3 separate regions of the Homo sapiens genome follow, and regions 1 and 2 are each reported to be linked to region 3. The links are microRNA targets in miRTarBase. Many come from high-throughput screens and were not tested one by one. Region 3 holds a microRNA gene; each other region holds the end of a gene's coding sequence. Distances are between the middles of the regions.

What was found. Region 3 holds the annotated microRNA hsa-miR-558 (UGAGCUGCUGUACCAAAAU, at 2,648-2,666, shown strand). A microRNA usually pairs through its seed, bases 2 to 8, with sites in the 3' UTR of a target mRNA and lowers its output. Matches are read on the target gene's strand: a 7mer-m8 pairs with bases 2 to 8, a 7mer-A1 pairs with bases 2 to 7 and ends in A, and an 8mer does both.
Region 1: miRTarBase lists DUSP19 as a target of hsa-miR-558. Seed matches in the 3' UTR shown: 7mer-A1 at 5,150-5,156.
Region 2: miRTarBase lists SLC35A5 as a target of hsa-miR-558. Seed matches in the 3' UTR shown: 7mer-m8 at 5,881-5,887.

The regions. Positions count from the first base shown.
Region 1 is chr2:183,094,333-183,101,460 of GRCh38, reverse strand. It overlaps DUSP19 (dual specificity phosphatase 19), which reads right to left. Exons shown (of 4, transcript NM_080876.4): 4 at 1,453-6,030. The coding sequence ends at 5,803. Among named protein-coding and RNA genes, the nearest start is that of DUSP19, 19 kb to the right of the region's middle.
Region 2 is chr3:112,581,514-112,588,641 of GRCh38, reverse strand. SLC35A5 (solute carrier family 35 member A5) reads right to left here. Exons shown (of 7, transcript NM_017945.5): 7 at 3,063-5,971. The coding sequence ends at 5,906. Among named protein-coding and RNA genes, the nearest start is that of SLC35A5, 23 kb to the right of the region's middle.
Region 3 is chr2:32,529,566-32,536,565 of GRCh38, forward strand. MIR558 (microRNA 558) reads left to right here and starts at 2,588; the gene lies at 2,588-2,681. It overlaps BIRC6 (baculoviral IAP repeat containing 6), which reads left to right. Exons shown (of 74, transcript NM_016252.4): 60 at 86-259; 61 at 1,790-1,986.

The sequences.
Region 1 (7,128 bases), 150 Mb from region 3:
AAGCTAGAAACCATCATTCTCAGCAAACTAACACAGAGACAGAAAACCAAACACCAAATGTTCTCACTCATAAGTAGGAGCTGAACACATGGACACAGGGAGGGGATTATCACACACTGGAGCCTGTCGAGGGGTGGGGGGTAAGGGGAGGGATAGCATTAGGAGAAATACCTAACGCATGCGGGGCTTAAAACCTAGATGACAGGTTGAAGGGTGCAGCAAACCACCATGGCACATGTGTACCTATGTAACAAACCCCCAAGTTCTGCACATGTATCCCAGAACTAAAAGTATAATAATAATCAAAAGGACACATTAAAAAAGAAAACTATTGGCCTACATCCCTGATGAACATTGATAAATACCCAAAAGAAAGGAAATTCATATATCAAAGAGATATCTGCACTCCCATGTTTATTGCGGCACTATTCACAATAGCCAAGATTTAGAAGCAACCTAAGTGTCCATCAACAGATGAATGGATAAATAACATGTAGTACATATATATAATGGAGTACTATTCAACCATAAAAAAGAATAAGATCCCGTCCTTTGGAAAAACATGGATAGAACTGGAGGACATTATGTTAAGTCAAATAAGACTGGCACAGATAGACAAACTTCAAATGTTCTCACTCCTTTGTGGGAGCCAAAAATTAAAACAGTTCAACACATGGAGATAGACAGTAGAATGATGGTTACCAGAAGCTGGAAAGAACAGTGGGGGCATGAGGGGAAGAAGTGTGATGGCTAATGGGTATTAAAATATAGCTAGATAGAATAAGATCTAGTATTTGATAGCACAACAGGGTGACTACAGTCAACAATAATTTATTGTACATTTTAAAATAACTATTACAAAGATATAACAGCCTGTTTGCATGAGCGTGGGAGGTGGGTGCCACACTATGTACAAATAATCTCAATGCAGTCATAGTTAGAATGTAGGGTAATTTAATCTGACAGTAACTCAGCATCTTCTCTTACCTTAAATAAGGTATTCTATTGAATTTTCATTGACAATCTGTCCACAGTGATGCCAATTATATGCTCTTACTTTAGCTTTTCTCTTTTGTGTTTTGAGACAGAGTCTCGCTCTGTCACCCAGGCTGGAGTGCAGTGGCGCAATCTCAGTTCACTGCAACCTCTGCCTCCCAGGTTCAAGCGATTCTCCTGCCTCAGCCTCCCAAGCAGCTGGGACTACAGGCGTGTGCCACCACGCCCAGCTAATTTTTTTTGTATTTTTAGTAGAGACAGGGTTTCACCGTATTGGCCAGGCTGCTCTTGAAGTCCTGACCTCGTGATCCTCTTGCCTCGGCCTCCCAAAATGCTGAGATTACAGGCCACCGCACCCAGCCGGCTTTTCATTTCTTGAAGAGACGGGAACAACAAATCTTCATAGATCTAAACTAACTTACATTTTAAAATATAAAATTGTGTGTCTTCCCAACATTTTTTTTTTTTTTTTGAGTCAGAGTCTCACTCTGTCAACTAGAAGTGCAGTGGTGCTATCTCGGCTCACTGCCACCTCCACCTCCCAGGGTCAAGCAATTCTCCTACCTCAGCCTCCTAAGAAGCTGGGATTACAGGCACCCACCACCATGCCCGGGTAATTTTTGTATTTTTAGTGATGGGGTTTTGCCATGTTGGCCAGGCTGGTCTTGAACTCCTGGCCTCAAGTGATCCATCTCCTTGGCCTCCCAAAATGTTGGGATTACAGGCATGAGCCACTGCGCCTGGCCACCAACAGATTTTTTAATTCAGAATTTGACAGCAAATAAGTGTTACATCTTTTAAAACAAATAGCTTCAAAGAAATATATTAATGGGAAAATATTAAACATATCATTTTTATTAAAGTATATCAACACCTAGAAACAATAAAGGGTACATGATGAATATGTATAAAAACAAGTAACTCAAAGCTTTACTTGAAATAGAAAAGTCTAACTATAAGTTATTTTTTGTGTGCATCAATTGAAACAAACCATAAGTTTGTTGATTATAATGTCATTTTATGCATTGCAAGAATATACAACTTCAAAGTCTTCTGGTTTAAATTCCTAAATAACTACAGGGTAACTAAATATGTTCAGGATCCTTCAGGCAGAAAAATCAACTATTTAGAGTCACCTGGAACAAATAAATAAGTAATCATGCCACATTTCTGTTGTTTTTAAATTTATCATGGTTTTGCTTATAAAGGTATTGACTCATTAGGTTAACTCTGTAAGATTATAAGATGATATTCTGATTTATACTTGCTACATTTATGACTACTTGGAGAAACAACACTTGAAGGGGACCTTCTATATACATTTGAACAATCTGAGTTACAAATAATCATGCTGACAAATTCAGGTTTCCCCACTACCACTGAAATTATCAGAGTCTAAGCTGAAAAAAAAAAATCCAAGTATTGTATTCATACATTTTAATCAAGGTTCAATAGGGAAGAAGGGAAGAAAAAGTAAAATTGCAAACAAAATGTTAAATACTGTACTCCACTTCCTCTGAAATATTTGTCTTTTGAATTAGTATACTGGTCTAAATTTTGCCTCCAAAAATCTAAGAAGAATATTGTTTGGGTTTTTCAAAAATCTACATACTTCTTGAGTGTTCTATTCAAATTTTATGTAATCAGAAACCTATTTTAAGGCATAAAATTAGAAAAAAATTTAAAAATTATTAACTTCAATTAACCTCAAATAAATAGAATTGTATTGTATGCTCCACTGCCTTTGTTCTACTCAGCTTTTTCAGTTTGCGGTTTAAAGCCTCCATATTTCTTTTCAATGTTTAAAAAGACATGCTGTTTTCATTTTCCCTTTCCTTTAAAAAATGGCAGAATAATCTATTGAAAAACAAAGAGGCAAAAACTCCTTGAACTATTTTTCCTCTCCTTTAAAACAGACCTATATTTGGTGTATGTATCTTTTAAGTTTGCAGTATGTGAGAAAGAGGACCGTAATCATAAAGTTCTTTTTTTAAAATAACTAGGAATGACAGAGTGATTTATCCCCATGGGAAGTGCAATAAACATATTGTATAGTATATATGACCTTATGCTTTACTTGGTGCCCCTAAAAGACTGAATTATATTCATTGATCTATTTTAATACAGCAAACTACAATTTAACGTTAAAACAAATTTGATGCTCAAAGCACTTCTGTAGAAGATACAAAAGATAAATGTTTGAATCTTACCCAGATCACTATAGGCAACAACTAAGCATATAAACTACAGACATAAATAATACACAATCCAGGCCAGGTGTAGTGGCTAACACCGTAATCCCAGCACTTTGGGAGACCAAGGCGTGTGGATCACTTGCGGTCAGGAGTTCGAGACCAGCCTGACCAACATGGTTGAACCCTGTCTCTACCAAAAAAAAATACAAAATTTGCTGGGCATGGTGGCACATGCCTATAATCCCAGCTACTTGGGAGGCTGATACAGGAGAATCGCTTGAAGCTGGGAGGCAGAGGTTGCAGTGAGCCAAGATCACGCCACTGCACTCCAGCCTGGGCAATAAGAGCAAAACTCTGTCTCAAATAATAATAATATCATTAAGAGCAAAACTCCATCTCAAAAATAATAATAATACATGAGCCATTATGAACAAATTCTATCAAGGCTTCATGTGACATTTAATGGCTGAAAACTAAACAGGATTTAGCAAAATAAAATGTATTTAAATACATCCTTTCTTATGAAAGGAGAAGGCTTATCCAGTGATACTGACCATAGAGAGAACCTATACATCAGTCTCATATTTAAGAGGGTTCTGCCTGCCTTGGTTGGCTTCAAAGAGCTCACTGTACGTTGATTATATTTAGACTGCTTCTTAGCAGAAGCAAAGAGTTTATAACAGTTCATAACATCACAAGTGATGGCATCTTGTCACGGTGTAAGCAATCTCAAAACATAACTTGCATTTATCACTTCTACTTTTTGCTCATGACAGCATATGAAAGCCTGCCTTCTCAAATGCACAGATGTGTTCAATATGCACTTTCCATCTATGCTTGCTCTTTATAATGTATATTTAAGAAGAGCTCAAGACTTTTAAAAATAAAACCTACATGGCAATGATATCTTCTAAGTCATGAAAAACTATGTGGAAACTATCAGGCCAGGCGTGGTGGCTGATGCCTGTAATCCTAGCACTTGGGAGGCTAAGGCGGGAGGATCACTTAAGCCTAGGAGTTTGAGATCAGCCTGGGCAACATGGCAAGACTCCTGTCTCTACAAAAATAAAAATAAAATTAGCCAGATGTGGTGGCGCACAGCTGTAGTCTCAGCTACTCAGGAGACTGAGGTGGGAGGACTGCTTGAGCCCAGGAGGTAGAGGCTGCAGTGCGTTGTGTTCATGCCACTCCACTCTAGCCTAGGTGACAGAGCAAGACCCTGTCTCGAAAAAAAAAAAAAAGAAAAGAAAAAAGAAACTGTCTTAATTAATTAATTTTAAGTATACCATATTCTGAAGAAAAAATCAAAATCTTTAAGCAAATTTATAATGTACAGAGCTCAGTTCTTCAAATACGGAGACATTAAAGAAAAAAGAACCTATTCAAAGGCCAAAGATAAAACTGTAAATGATTGTGGGTCTCCTAAAAGTATATTTAAAGTTTCTTACAAAACCATAACCCTTCTCCCCTAAAAAATATGTTCTCTGGTAGAATACTGAAGTAGAAAACAGACCACTAAACAATGATCTTGCAGTATCAAACATTTTCTCAAAAAATTATGACATAGGATCAAAAAAACAGAATGCTAGGCACCCAAGATAAAAAGCACAAAATGTAAGAGAATAGATCACCTGTTCAAAGAACCAAAGCTCACAATAACGTATGACAGAACACCTATACATTAAAAAAAAAAAGAAAGAAATGCCGATAACAGAATTGAAAAAAACAAAATGAGGTCGGATGCAGTGGCTCACGCCTGTAATCCCAGTATTTAGAGAGGCCAAGGTGGGTGGATCACCTGAGGTCAGGAGTTCGAGACTGCCTGGCCTATGTGGTGAGACTCCATCTCTACTAAAAACACAAAAATTAGCTGGGCATGGTGGCAGGCACCTATAATCCCAGCTATATGGGAGGCTGGGGCAGGAGAATCGCTTGAACCCGGGAGGCAGAGGTTGCAGTGAGCTGAGATTGCGCCATTGCACTCCAGCCTGGGTGACAAGAGCCAAACTCCATCTAAAAAAAGAAAAAAAAAGAAGAAGACAAAATGAAAAGTGTATATTTTTCATAAGAGAACATAAGAATTTTGTGAATATTGTAGCCACTGTGTAAATATTGTATAAACCTTCAGATACTGGTTATCTCTTTTGGGAGATTTAAGGTATTCATTTTTAATCTTAAAAAGATTCTTTAAAAAGAAATATACTTCCCTTTGAAATAGTAAGTTAAGTAGCATTTCAAGTTTTTCTTTCATAAAAACAGTTGCTGGAACAGAAAAATAGGCTTCATTAAATGATTCTCTCCATGCTCTAAATACACATTTTAAATTTAAACCTTTTTCTTCTACAGAAAGCAATGATTACTAACACTTTGTTATTTTCCCTTAGCAATTTAAAAAAGCATTTAATCACACATTATAATAACAAAGAGAAAGTAATGACATTTGAAATTTACTTATACAGTAGGTCAGGACAATCAAATTGACCTCCATTTATGCATAAAAAAGGCAAGAGAAAAAAGGGAGTTTTGCTAGTCTACTCTCCAAAAAAGGGAAAAGATGGCTATAGAAGTCAATTCAGAAACTACAGTTGTCCATTGTCTGCTACAATGCAACTCATGAACTGTTCTCCTGTATTCTGTCACACTTATTGCTTTCTTTGCCCTCTTGATATGTACGAAGCTGCTCCATGAAGCCAGAATTTGGACATATGGAAGGTCTTGCATTTTTCACCAAAGAAAAAGCACTGGTAAATGAGGTTTGTTCAGAATTCATCAGGAAACCTATTACAATTGCAGCAGCCCTGGAAACGCCTGCATTACAATGAACAAGAACCACTCCATCCTACAAAAAAAAAAACAAACAAAAATCTTCATTATTCATTTGAGAAAGGTTATTATATCAATTGCACATTCTTATACTACTTGAAAGTATAAAGTAAATATTCAGTTTTATTGATTTATTTGATTCAATTTATTTGATTATTGAAATAAAATTCATTACCAGCAACAAATGGAAACTCAATCAATCAATCAATCAACCTGTACCTCCCTTACCTACTAACCCATGATTGAAATGCTTTAATGATGTTTGGAATTCTGAAACAGTATCTTTCATTAAACTAAAGTAATCCAGTAAAGAACACATTAAAACCTAACAACTTAGTAGCCAAATGTATCAGTAAAGTACACATAAAAACCTAATAACTTAGTAGTCAAATGTATCAGTAAAGTACACATGAAAACCTAACAACTTTGTAGCCAAATGTATCAGTAAAGTACACATAAAACCTAACAACTTAGTAGATAAGTGTATATAAATAAGAAAAAAACCACAGGAAATATATGTGGAAACATAAAATAAAATCATAACTATAAGCTAAACAGAAAGCCAGAAATACTCCAGAGTATACTTAGTGTTCTCATAAATAAGCTAGTGTCAATGGCTTGCAAATCTGTTTAAATAATCAGCAAGGAAAAAATTTTCTACCCTTGCACATATTTTATCCTGGCAGAAAGTTACTTAAAAATATTTAAACTTACGATGTAGTAAAATGTGACACAAATAGCTCATAACAATGTGAAGTGGAAAAGGTAATCACATACCAGCATGAGGTCAATAAATGAAAAACATTTCAGGTAACTTGCAAATGATACTTTCCAAGTGAAAAGAGACACAGTGCAAGACCAATGCTGATGGGGGCAATATTGTATTAATAATGAATGTGATAGATCTGATGGGACAGCATTGATACAGCTTGGCCTATCTGAAGCTTTTAAAAAGTTAATGATCTAAATGAAATGTGGTGAACTGTGAGCACACCCTCCAGAATTAGACATTTTAGTTACTTCATTTCTTGATTCTTTATTTGGTACAACACAAAAAAAGACGAGAGCAGGAGGGAAAAAATATACTACTGAAAACCCTCTACCCAAAGCACAT
Region 2 (7,128 bases), not on the chromosome of region 3:
GATTAATATCAAGATATATAGAGAACTCCTAAAACTCAACAATGGCAACAAAACAAACAACCAGATTCAAAAGTGGACAAAGGACTTAAATAGGCATTTCTCCAAAGAAGATATACAAATGACCAACAAGCACATAAAAAGATGCTCAACATCACTAATTATTAGCGCAAGGGAAATCAAGTCTACATCATCACACCCATTACCATGGCCATTAAATAAACAAAAACAAAAACAGAAAACAACAAGTGTTGGTGAGTATATGAGGAACTTGGAACCCTTGTATACTGTTGGAGGGAATGTAAAATGATAGAGCTTCTAAGGAAAACAGTATGTCAGATCCTCAAAAAATTAAAAATGTACCCTTTAATTTATAAATAATTACCATATAATACAGTAATTCCACATCCAGGTGTGTGTGTGTGTGTGTGTGTGTGTGTGTGTATGTGTGTGTATATATATATATATACACACATCAGCTATACCCACCAACATTCCCACCAACAGTATACAAGGGTTCCAAGTTCACCACATACTAACACTTGTTGTTTTCTGTTGTGTGTGTGTATGTTTTAGTGGCCATTTTAATGGGTGTGATGTGATATCTCATGGTAGATTTGATCTGTCTTTCCCTAATAATTAGTGATGTTGATCATCTTTTCATGTGCTCGTTGGTCATTTGTATATCTTCTTTGGAGAACTGCCTATTCAAGTCCTTTCCCCACTTTTCATGTATATATACTCAAAAGAATTGAAAGCAAGATCTCTAAGAGATTATTTGTACACTTATGTTCATAGCATCATTATTCACAAGAGCTAAATTGCTGTAAGCAACCCAGGTGTCCATTGATGGATGAATGGATAAAGAAATGTAGCATATACATAAAATGACATATTATTCTGTCTTAAAAAGCAAGGAGATTCTGACACACTACAACACTGATGAACCTTGAGGACATCATGCTATGTAAAAGAAGTCAGTCACAAAAGGACAAATACTGTATGATTCCACTTATAAATGAGGTATTTAGAATAGTCAAAAACATAAAGACAGGAAGTGGGATGTTGGCTGCCATAGACTGAGGGCAGGGAGGAATGGGGAGTTACTGTTTAATGGGTATAGAGTTTCAGTTTTGCAACATGAAAAGGGTTCTGGAGGTAGACAGTGGTGATGGTTGCATAATATAAATATAAAAATGTGCTTAATAACTACTGAACTGTACACTTACCATGGTTAAGACACGAAATTTTATGCTGTGCATTTTACCACAATAAAAATGGAAAAAAATAATTAGAAATAGCTAGTTAGGACCTATATTTTTACAAAATAATAGAAAAAACTTTCAGACAAAAAATTAAGAATGAGAAATAAAACAGAACTACACCAATGGGAAATTCAAAGGATTATGAGAATAAATCATAAACTCCTATGCAAATAAATTCAAAAATCTGTATGAATGGCTGATTTTTTTTAGCAAAACAAATGATCAAGAGTGAACCAAGAAGAGCAAAAGGAAGAGAGAGAGAGAATGTTGTGAGAGGGAAAAATAAAGTATCTCAAAAAAGTGCCAAGCCTAGGCAATTTTACTAGTGAGTTCTTTCAGAACTTCAGGGAACACATAAAGCTGATATTTTAAAAATCTTTCCAGGGCACCAAGGCCAATGGGAGTTAGTAGCATCCATATGGGATTGTTAGGAACATGAGTTGATAAATCCACAGCAGGACAAAATGCATGATTTGCAAAGTCAACAAGTCTGTTATCTTGACAGCCATAGGGTGGTACTTGAAGGAATTAAAACAGCAAGTGAGGGCAGAAGTTCTGCAGGACTGTTGGGGGTCTGTTATGATTCTATTTGAGCAAAATGTCACTTTCTCATTACATTCATATTTGAAATAGAAATTTATTGGTTGTAAAGCTTTGTATTTTAATTTGTAAATGTTTCGGTTTTCAGATAAAAAGCATAAGCAGTTTATACTTCATATTATGTTTGTACGTATTTAAATAACAGTAAAGTAGAAAAAAGTCCATGCTGACATTTATGACATTTGTTTTTCCGTTAAAAGGAAGTTTAAGAAACTCTGCTCTAGGTTTTAGAGAAAAAAATATCACACTTCATTGAGCTTGACTTCCTCTGCCTCTTCTCCCCACAGGAAAGGTAGATGTTCATGGGAAAAATCAGAATATAGGTAAAGGAAAAAGGAGCCAAGGAGGATATGGCCTATTTAATCGAGCCTATTGGGTCTATAAAGAAAAGCAAAAAGATTCTCTGCAGATCTACCCAGTCTAGTCCAGCTTACAAGTGACAAGGCTTCCACATGGGACTTCAGAAGCAAAAAAAGCCTTAGAGTTATAGAGTAATTTGTCAAGTTATCCCCTCTGTATGTGGATCTTGAAAACCCACGGCAGCAAGATGCAGCTGGACAAGGATTTGAGATCTTGAGTCTAAGCCATCTTTCTCTCTATAACCAACAGCCATATTGATGCTTTCCCTCAGGATTAGGCATATTCCTGGACAGTTCAGTCCTAGGACCAATGACAGAGTTAGACCAGGTCATTCACTGCAGGCCACACTTGTGGCACAACCAAAGCCTATGCAGAAACTATCAAGGGAACAGATTCAGTGCATTATGTGTAGGTCATAACTGTGCAGAAGAGAATCTAAAAATAGAAAGGGACTTTAGAAATCAGTCCAACTTCTACACTCATGAAGGAATCTCTTCTAAAACATCCTGATGACACAATCTCTTCCTAAAAACTTCAGTGATAATTTACTACTATTCTCTATTACTCTTCAGGAAGGTTCTTTTAACTGTTGAAAAGTAACCTATTTTGGCAAAGTCCTCATTATAATAAAATAATAATCACTACCATATAAATCTTACTGTAGTTTGATTCTCCAGAGCAGAAAAATGTCTACTTCCTTTTTCACATGACAATTGCTCCTCTCCAGGTTATACTATCCTCATTTCAGGGGCATGTAGGATATGGTTTCCAGACTTCTGACCTTCTTAAACCAGTGGTGCCCATAAGACCTCCAGTGGATACATATCAGAACTTCGCATCTTAAAAAAAAAAACAACTTTTATTTCAGATTGAAGGGGTACATGTACAGGTTTGTTACATTGCGTATATATGGTACATTGCATAATGGTGAAGTTTGGGCTTCTAGTGGACCCATCACTCAAACAGTGAACATTGTACCCAATACATATTTTGTCAACCCTCATGTCCTTCCCATCTGATATGATTAGGCTTTCTGTCCCCGCCCAAATCTCATCTTGAATTGTAATCCCCATAATCCCCAGGTGTTGAGGAAGGAACCAGGTGGGGGTAATTGAATCATGGGGGCAGTTTCCCCCATGCTGTTCTCATGATAGTAAGTTCTCATGAGATCTGATGGTTTTATAAGCATCTGCCATTTCCCCTGTTGGCACTCTCTCTCCTGCTGCCTTGTGAAGAAGGTGCTTGCTTCTGTTTCGCCTTCAGCCATGCTTGTGAGTTTCCTGAGGCCTCCTCCCCAGCCATGCAGAACTGCGAGTCATTTAAACCCCTTTTCTTTATAGATTACCCAGTCTCGGGTATTTCTTTGTAGCAGCATGAGAATGGACTAATACACCACCCTTCTCACTTTGGAATCCTGTGTCCACATGTACCCACTGTTTAGCTCCCACTTATAAGTGAGAACATGTGGTATTTGATTTTCTGTTTCTGAATTATTTCAGTTAGGATAATGGCTTCCAGCTGCATCCATGTGGCTTTAAAGCACATGGTTTCATTATTTTTTATGGCTGCAAAGTATTCCATGGTGTATATGTACCACATTTTCTTATTCCAGGCACCACTGATGGACACTTAGGTTGAGTCCATGATTTTGTTACTGTGAATACTGCTGTGATAAACATACCACTGCAAGTGTCTTTTTGATAAAACGATTTATTTTCCTTTGGGTAGGTACCCAGTAGAGGGATTGCTGGGTTGAATAGAACATTTTTAGTTCCAGCACATGATCTTGTGCTCTCACTCTTTCTCTTCCTCTCTCATTAAGTGGCAAGTTAACATAAGTAAACTTAACTTTGTGCAAAAAATGCTTTCCAAAGAGGAAGGTGAGGAAAAAAAGTAATCGTAAATAAGAAAATCAATCTCCATGCACTACTGAAATCTGCTATTTAATGTATTCTGTATGTGATACCTTTGTAAGAATATTTTTGTAATTTTTATGTTTTATGAGATAAAAATGTTTTGTATGCCACATTTCCTAGAAAGGTCCTGCTGTACCTCATTTCCCTTACCTTTAAAATAAATCGCCATAATAGATATAATCTTCGTATTTCACATAACTGATGAAAATGCCTTTGTTATTGTTAGAAGTAAAGATCTACTTAAAGAGAAAGTTTTAAAAGTTGTGTAGGTTTTTGTCTCACTCTATTTTTTAAGATTAAAAGTACTCTACATCCCACCCTAAATGACAGAGTGGCAACACAAGACATAGGTTTAATAATTATTTTAATTACAAATTTCCACCAATTCTTGCCAGTCATATTATTGTGGATATCACAAATGAATTATATAATAGTATATTACCTTATATTCATCTGCATGAAACTTAGGAGAAAGGAGAGCAGAAATGTGTAAGTTTCTGAGAATGACACCATAAAGCTCATATTTACAGTATGGTAGTCTGTAAACATACAGGCCTGCCAGTTAAAGCCCACTCTTCTATCATCACCCAGCTGCATGACCCTGAGCAAGTCACTTTTGTTTGCTAATTTTTAATATCATCTATCACCTGACTTCTCTATCTACGAGAGTTAACTGGCTGCATGCAAAATACCATGAAAAATACCATGCACTTTTAAGTGTGAAGTAGCACTGTAAAGTGACTTATATATTACTGGTCTTTCTATTTTTAGAGTATTAATATTCATACATCAGTTAAAAGTCAACATGTGTTTGCTAAGTGATCCTTTTGAAAGGATCCCTTTAAAAGTTCCTAGGCATCAGCTTCACTGACAATCTGGTATGATTCTGAAGCCAGCATTTCAACTCTTGGAAAGATATACAATAGTCACAGCTTGAATTAGTAACTAATAAAATAAAATGCCCTCTTATTCTCCAAAATGTAATAATTCAGGAGTAATGACATCAAGATTTTTCTCCTCAAACTGAGGAGAAAAAAGCCCCACCGTGGCTTGTTTAAATGACTTAAAATACAAGTGGTAACTATGGTGACTAGGGAACCAATGTTTAAAACATCAAAAGATTATTACAAAAATCCAATTTCCCATGAATTTCTAAAAATTAAAATTCTGAGATGTTGTGTCTGAGAAACTGCTTCTTCAGCAAAATATTTAGCACAGACTACATCATCCCAAATCTATGGTATGGCCAGGTATTTAGGTCCTTCAACCAACGTTTTTAGAAAGGGTCCCGTTGCTCTTTACTTGCAAAATGACTATCTCTAGGGCCTCAAAATTCAAGAGACAACCTAGCTTTTATAATGTTAAAAAGGGAAGACTTTGGCATGTAAACTAGAACTACATGATTGTGAATATTTGGCAAATTGATCTCTATGTGTATATACAAGCTATAGCTAACATGATTATTACAAGTTTTTTGGAAGCTTGAAGGCCAAGGAAAATAATCTGCACATATAACTTTCTGATTTATCAAGTACTGAGATATTAATGAATTCTTCATATTGTTACTCCTGTATCAGTTCTTTAGAATTTCTTAGCCTTTGGGTACTCTAAGCCTTGGATGGAACCATTTAGGGAGTAGCTAGATATATGCAAAGAATATTAGGATTTAGAAACATTTCTGGTTTATCAAAGTGAAAAGATAAATATTACAAACACTGAAAATGTGAAAATAAGGTTCAAGAGAGCTGCAAACTATGTGGGTACCAGTTAGAAAGTATCTTCATCTGACTCATCACTCTTGGGTTTGGTAAGTCTTTCTAGTTCTTCTCCATCCTAAAAGGAAACATGAAAGCAGTAATTAGAACAAAACTGGAAATGTAGCATTTTTAAAGGGAAAACCTTACTAACAAATCACTGGTCTTACCTCATTAAGCTATAGATATAATCTGGTCAAATTAAATAAATACTTATGTTCTTGGAAAGTTAACTATAGAAGTATGAGAGGATAAAAAAGTGAAGTGTACTCAGTACTCAAAATTTCAAAGCTAACATGAGCAAAGTGAGGAGCACCACCTGCTGGTCTTGCAGAAAAATGATTAAAGGTTACAGAAATAGGTCTTCATAGGCCTTGTTACCTATATAGATTTTCTTTTGCTTAAAAATTAGAGCAAATGGCATTATCGGCTGTTGGAAAAGAATACAAGACTTCTGGATATACACTCTGGCTAAGAGCAGGGTATCCGAAACTCAAGATCCTAATTTTTTCATCTTTAGAATCTGTTGAATCATGACAGAGGCATTACACCCAGGGAAGCTCTGCTATGAATGTTATTAAGCAATAGATTATTTTTCCCAAAGAGTGAAATGTTCACTGTATAAAATATTTCATATTTTGTGTGCTCAAGAAAATTGTAAATCTAAAGCTAGATGTCTATTTCACTTATTTAAACGTATATTTAACTCCTTAATTGAATCTTCAAAGAGATCATTAACTTGCCAATAAAATGATTGACAGAGCCTTCCAAAACAATTGCAAGCAACTGGGAGATATTCGGAATAATTGCATAAGCATTTTTCTAGAAAATATTTTCCTCCTACTCGCCTTGCAAGGATCCTCTTGAAAACTACCTTTCTAGTGAAATAAACAAACCCTGCCCTTCTGGCATACTGGCTTATGAATAACCACAGGGAGGACTGAGGAGCCAGGCTTTCTATTCAACAGGACTTACTAATACGAAAGGCCAACTTCTCTCACAAATGAGCTTATTTTCCCTAACTATGGTGGAAAAGAAAGAGAAAGGGACTTGGAGTCAGACATAGGTGTACCAGTTCTTTCATTTATTATCTGTAAACCATTTTGCCTGTTTCTTGTAAAACTATGCAGACAGGACAAGACAACCTGTGAGGTATCTTCCAGGTGTATAATTCTATAGTATTCTATGAAGTAACACATAAGGTCCTTGAGATTGACTTATACTTTTTCTCTACAC
Region 3 (7,000 bases):
GTAATTTAGTAAAAGCAGATAATAATTAAACCAAGTAAATGTTTCTTTCTCGGTTTCCAGATTTAACTTAGTTATATCATTTTAGGCCAGCCATTGCCAGCTGAAATGACACTTGCCCAGCTTTTAACTCTCCTATATGACCGAAAACTTCCTCAGGGTTACCGCTCAATAGATCTGACTGTTAAATTGGGATCAAGAGTTATAACAGACCCCAGTCTATCAAAAACAGATTCTTATAAAAGACTACACCCTGAAAAAGGTATGTGCATAATACTACTTTAAAAATTACAGACTGTCATACAAAGAGGCAGAGATTTCTATAGCTAATGACTTAATTGACTTGTGTTTTTATTATATCAACATAAGATATAATTTTTTTATGACTGAATTTTTGTAAATATAAAAAATGGCCATTATTTCATTTGGAAACTAAGTTGCATTATTTCTTATAACATCATTTGTTTTATGAGCGCATGTACTTTAATTTCTGATATTTCTGTGAGAGCTATGTGAATTGTCATTTTATAATAAAAGTGAGAAACTCAACTTACAACTTTGTTATAATTTATATTGAGTGGCATTTCTTGCATATAAACATGTTTTCTCATATAATTGGGATCACATATTTTTGTTTTTTACTTATATATTCCATTAATTTTTTTTGAGACAGAGTCTTTTTCTGTCTCCCAGGTCGGAGTGCAGAGGCACGATCTTAGTTCACTGCAACCTCCGCCTCCCGAGTTCAAGTGATTTTCCTGCCTCAGCCTCCCGAGAAGCTGGGATTACTGGCACCCACCACCATGCCTGGCTAATTTTTGTATTTTTTGTAGAGAGAAGGTTTCACCATGTTGGCCAAGCTACTCTGTAACTCCTGACCTCAACTTATCTGCCCGCTTCGGCCTCACAAAGTGCTGGGATATAGGCATGAGCCACCGCACCCGGCCCTTATATTCCATTAAATATTTTTGAATATCCATTTTTGAATTGGCTATTTTTTCATAAAAATGTAAGAAAATTTATTTGTTCCCCAATCATCGAAACATTGTGGTTGTTTCCAATTTTTACTCCTATAAATGCTATATAAGTAGTTTTCATAGTGTGAGTATGATATGAACTTACTTAAACTTTCCATCTTTCTCATGACTAAAATTCAGTCTTTAGTTATTGGTCTTTTGTATTCTTCAGCAAATTTTGGTACATTGTCTTTGCCCAGTTTTTCAGCACGATTATTTCTCTCTTTTGTTTTAATGTTTAAAGGGTCTGGTTACGTGACCTTTTGGTTTTCTTTGGTGAGTAATTCAGAGTTAAACTAATATGGTATAATTTTTTGTTTTAAGTAAGGGAAGTCTTTGTCATTAATTTTTCTTAATAGGATACTTTAGAGCATATTATTTGCTATGAGAACTTTGAGAACTTATTTATTTTAACATAGGATATACGTTAAAGTATGCCCTAAAGGACAGTGCTTCTCAAACTTCAGTATGCTTACAAATGACCAGCATCATACTGTTAAAATGGAGATTCTTCATTTCAAACTAGCTTGCAGGTGATGCCAATACTACTAGTCCATGAACCATTCTTCCAATAACAAGACTAAAGAAGGCAGTATCAGAAGTCATTTAAAGGTCATTGTACCGTCTAGCCATAATACAGCTATATCTAAATAAATGATGTTTTGTGCTCTTTTTTGAGTAGCAAGAAAGCAGTAATACCTGCTTTTGTAAATGAAAGAATATTATAAAAATATACCCTTTCTTACCTATTCAGTTATTTGTAATTTATTGTCTAGATCATGGAGACTTACTTGCTAGCTGTCCAGAAGATGAGGCTCTCACTCCAGGTGATGAATGCATGGATGGGATACTGGATGAATCTTTGCTTGAAACCTGTCCAATTCAGTCACCATTACAAGTTTTTGCAGGAATGGGTGGACTGGCTCTTATTGCTGAAAGACTACCCATGCTATATCCAGAAGTAATTCAACAGGTAAGATAAGATTTCCTAATCGAGTATATCATTCCATAGCTAAGCCCTTCATTCTTTTTAATGTTTGTTTTTTAATGTACTTGGATTAACTTTGTAGAAATACCCTTTGCTTTATATTTTTTGAACATTATATAACTCTTTCAATGGTCAGTCTGTACAGAGCTTCATGACCTTCAGTAGGTATGGAAGAAATGTTGAAGATCAAGCACACTTGCCAGACTTACTACACTGTTGCATTTATCTTGATTTCATGGTTGTAACACTAGCATTCTCTTTTCTATGCTGCTTTAAGTGTGATATTTATTAGAGATATTATTGGAAATAGGAGAAGTAAAATAGCAGTGTATACTGCCACCAATATATGTCTTTTTGTTTACCTTTTATTCCTGTTTCAGGTGCCATTTCCATTTTTGGTGGTTTAAAAACATGACCTATTCCCGTGTTCATTTACGAAGCTGTCAATGTCTGTGCTTTCCATGCTCTTGTATCAATCAGTAGGAAGTATGGTGCATGGAGAGTTGTAAAAACAAAACTTTGTGTTTGTTGAATGAAGTAGGGGAATTATTCTCTTTGATTTCATGTCGTGTGTGTGTGTGTGTGTGTGTGTGTGTGTGTGTGTGGTTATTTTGGTATAGTAGCTCTAGACTCTATTATAGTTTCCTGAGCTGCTGTACCAAAATACCACAAACGGGCTGGCTTAAAACAACTGAAATTTATTCTCAATAGTTGAGGAGGCTGTAAGTCTGAAATCAAGATATCAGCAGGGCCATGCTCCCTCTGAATTCAGGCTGTAGGGAAGACTCCTTCCTTGCTTCTTCCTGGCTTCTATTGGTTGCCAGTAGTTCTTGCTGTTCATTGGTTTGTAGCTGAATCACTTTAATTTCTGCCTACGTCGTCATATGGCCATCTTTCCTGTGTGTCCTTGTATCTCTTTCTCCTTATAAGGACACCAGTCATTTAATGTAGGGTCCTGCAAACCATTATCTCCTCATCTTAACTTGATTACATCTGCAAAGGCCCCATTTCCAAATAAGGTCATCTTCATAGGTGCTAGGGGTTAGGACTTGAACATATCTTGGGAGGACAAAATGCAACACACAATAATACTTATTCATGTTATTGCTTCCCTAGTATTCAAAAATATAAGATGATATAACTATGTTATAAGGTGATTGACACAGAATGAGCAAAATTTTCTTACTAGACAATGACATAATTACTCAAAAGTTTGAAGCAGAAAAGACCCCAACATTTTCAGCATTATTATTGCTCAACATAAATGATTTTTTCTAATTTAGTATTCAGTGTGGTTCACTATATTGATTAGTAACTGGAAATGGGGTCCTGGTAATACATACCTAAGAATGTGAAAGTGACTTTAGAATTGGGTACTTGGCAGAGTATGGAATAATTTTGAGTAGCATGATTTAAAAAAAAAATCTAGATTACCTTGAATAGATTGTTAGATAAAATGTGGATGATAAAGCTTCTGCCAGTGAGGGCCCAGAAGGAAGTAAGGATCATAGGGGAGAAAACCTACAGTGTCTTAGAGAATATCTGAATTGTCATAAGCAGACTTGGTAGACATACAGGTGTTTAAAGTGCTGACAAGGTGGTTTAGAAGGAAATGAGGAACATGTTACCGGAACCTGAAGGAAAAGGGATCTTTGTCATATAGAAGCAGAACTATTAACTCATTTGTGTCCTAAATATAGAAAGCAGCACTTCTGCTGTAATGAACTTGGATGTAATGAACTTACATGTAATGAACATGTAATGAACTTGGATGTTTAGCTGAGATTTCCACACAAAGTGGTGAAAGTACAACCTGTCTTTTTCTTGCTGCTTATAGTGAAATGTGCGAGGAAAGATATAAATTGAGAGAAGAACTGTTGAAAAACAAGCAATCAGTGCTTGTCAATTTGTGAAATTACCTATCCAGATCACAGAAGGTGCTAAAATTTAGATATTTGCTATCAGAAAAGCATGCTCCAAAGTATAAGCCAAGAGTGAGGCTGGACAACCTTTTGCTAGTGCCTTAGAAACATCAAAAGTCAGAGTATTCAGTCACATAGAGGGCTCTTTGAAGAGATTAGGCATGTAACTCATGGATCTCCTCAGCCGTCTAAGCATAAGCGAGGAATAGAGGATATGATGTGATGATGGAAGCATCCAAGAGCCATGGAACGTAAGTAGCCTCTGGAAGCTGGAAAAGGTGAGGAACTGTTATTTCCTAAGAGCCTCCAGAAGCAATGCATCCTTTGATTTTAGTCCCATAAGACCTGTTTTGGATTTCTGACCTCTGGAATTTTAAAATAATAAATTGTGCTGTTCTGAGCCACTGAGTTTGTGGCAATGTGTTATAGCAGCAGTAGAAAACTAATACAGAGTTTGGTCTGTAGTTGTAATGCCTTTGTCTGGTTTTGGTGTCAGGATACTACTAGCTATATGGGATGGGTTGAGAATTTCTAATATATCAAATTAAGGATACTGTTAGGTGTGTTTAATAAGAGACACTGTCTGGGCATGGTGTAATCCTAGCCTGTAATCCTGTAATCACACTTGTAATCCCAGCACTTTGGGAGGCCAAGGCAGGAGGGTCACCTGAGGTCAGCAGTTCGAGATCAGCCTGGCCAACATGGTGAAACCCCGTCTCTACTAAAAATACAAAAATTAGCCCGGTGTGGTAGTGGGTGCCTGTTATCCCAGCCGTTCAGGAGGCTGAGGCAAGAGAATTGCTTGAACCCGGGAGGTGGAGGTTGCAGTGAGCCGAGATGGCTTCATTGCACTCAAGCTTGGGTGACAAGAGTGAAATTCCATCTCAAAAAAAAAAAAAAAAAGAGACACTGCAGATTGCAACAGTAGTGAACTGGAAGATGTATCAAAAGAAATCATTCGGCTTGGCGCGGCAGCTAATGCCTGTAATCCCAGCACTTTGGGAGGCCGAGGCAGGCGGATCACCTGAGGTCAGGAGTTTGAGATCAGCCTGGCCAACATGGTGAAACCCCATCTCTACTAAAAGTACAAAAATTAGCTGGGCGTGGTGGTGGACGCTTGTAATCCCAGCTACTCGGGAGGCTGAGGAAGGAGAATTGCTTGAACCCAGGAGGCAGAGGCTGCAGTTAACCAAGATCGCACCACTGCACTCCAGCCTGGGTGACAGAGCAAGACTCTGTCTCAAAAAAAAAAAAAAAAAAAAAAAAAAAAATGGTTCAAATGGAAGCATAGAAAGTGTAAGGAATGAGAAGAACATAAGAGCTGTATGGACTGAAGTGAAAAATTCTAACTTACATGAATTTATAGTCCGAGAAGAAGAGTGAGTTGAAACATGGACAGAAACAGTATTGAGAAGAAGAAAAATTTCCCAAATAGATGTAAAACTTAAATCTCAATTCAACATGTAAGAAACTGTTAACTCATGCAGGATATGCATGCCTGGAACTGTCATGGTAAAAGTGGTTAAAAACAAAGACAGCTGGCCACTGCAGTGCATCTCTGAAATCCCAGCTACTCAGGAGACTGAAGCGGGAGGATTACTTGAGCCCACGGGTTCCAGACCACCTGGGCAACATAACAAGACCTCATACCCCCAAAAAAGCAAAAAAAAAAAAAAAAAAAAAAAAAAGCTAAGACAATGAGAGAATATAAAAACCAGCTATAAAGAAAATGACCTATATTTTCAAAACAGCAGCAATAACACTAACAACTGGCCTTTCAACAGAAACCATATGAGCCAGGGAATTACAACTTTATTTTATTTTATTTTTTAAATTATACTTTTAGGGTACATGTGCACAACGTGCAGGTTTGTTACACATGTATACATGTGCAATGTTGGTATGCTGCACCCATTAACTCATCATTTAACATTAGGTATGTCTCCTAATGCTATCCGTCTCCCCTCCTCCCACCCCACAACAGGCCCCGGTGTGTGATGTTCCCCTTCCCTGTGTCCATGTGTTCTCATTGTTCAATTCCCACCTATGAGTGAGAACATGCAGTGTTTGGTTTTTTCGTCCTTGCGATAGTTTGCTGAGAAAGATGGTTTCCAGCTTCATCCATGTCCCTACAAAGGACATGAACTCATCATTTTTTATGGCTGCATAGTATTCCATGGTGTATATGTCCCACATTTTCTTAATCCAGTCTATCACTGTTGGACATTTGGCTTGGTTCCAAGTCTTTGCTATTGTGAATAGTGCTGCAATAAACATACGTGTGCATGTGTCTTTATAGCAGCATGATTTATAATCCTTTGGGTATATACCCAGTAATGGGATGGCTGGGTCGAATGGTATTTCTAGTTCTAGATCCCTGAGGAATTGCTACACTGACTTCCACAATGGTTGAACTAGTTTACAGTCCCACCAACGGTGTAAAAGTGTTCCTATTTCTCCACATCCTCTCCAGCACCTGTTGTTTCCTGACTTTTTAATGTTCGGCATTCTAAGTGGTGTGAGATGGTATCTCATTGTGGTTTTGATTTGCATTTCTCTGATGGCCAGTGATGATGAGCATTTTTTCATGTGTCTTTTGGCTGCATAAATGTCTTCTTTTGAGAAGCATTTGTTCATATCCTTCGCCCACTTTTTGATGGGGTTGTTTGTTTTTTTCTTGTAAATTTGTTTGAGTTCATTGTAGAGTCTGGATATTAGCCCTTTGTCAGATGAGTAGATTGCAAAAATTTTGTCCTATTCTGTATGTTGCCTGTTCACTCTGATGGTAGTTTGTTTTGCTGTGCAGAAGCTCTTTAGCTTAATTAGATCCCATTTGTCAATTTTGGCTTTTGTTGCCATTGCTTTTGGTGTTTTAGACATGACGTCCTTGCCCATGCCTATGTCCTGAATGGTATTGCCTAGGTTTTCTTCTAGGGTTTTTATGGTTTTAGGTCTAACATTTAAGTCTTTGATGCATCTTGAATTAATTTTTGTATAAGGTGTAAAGAAGGCATCCAGTTTCAGCTTTCTACATATGGCTAGCCAGTTTCCCAGCACCATTTATTAAATAGGGAATC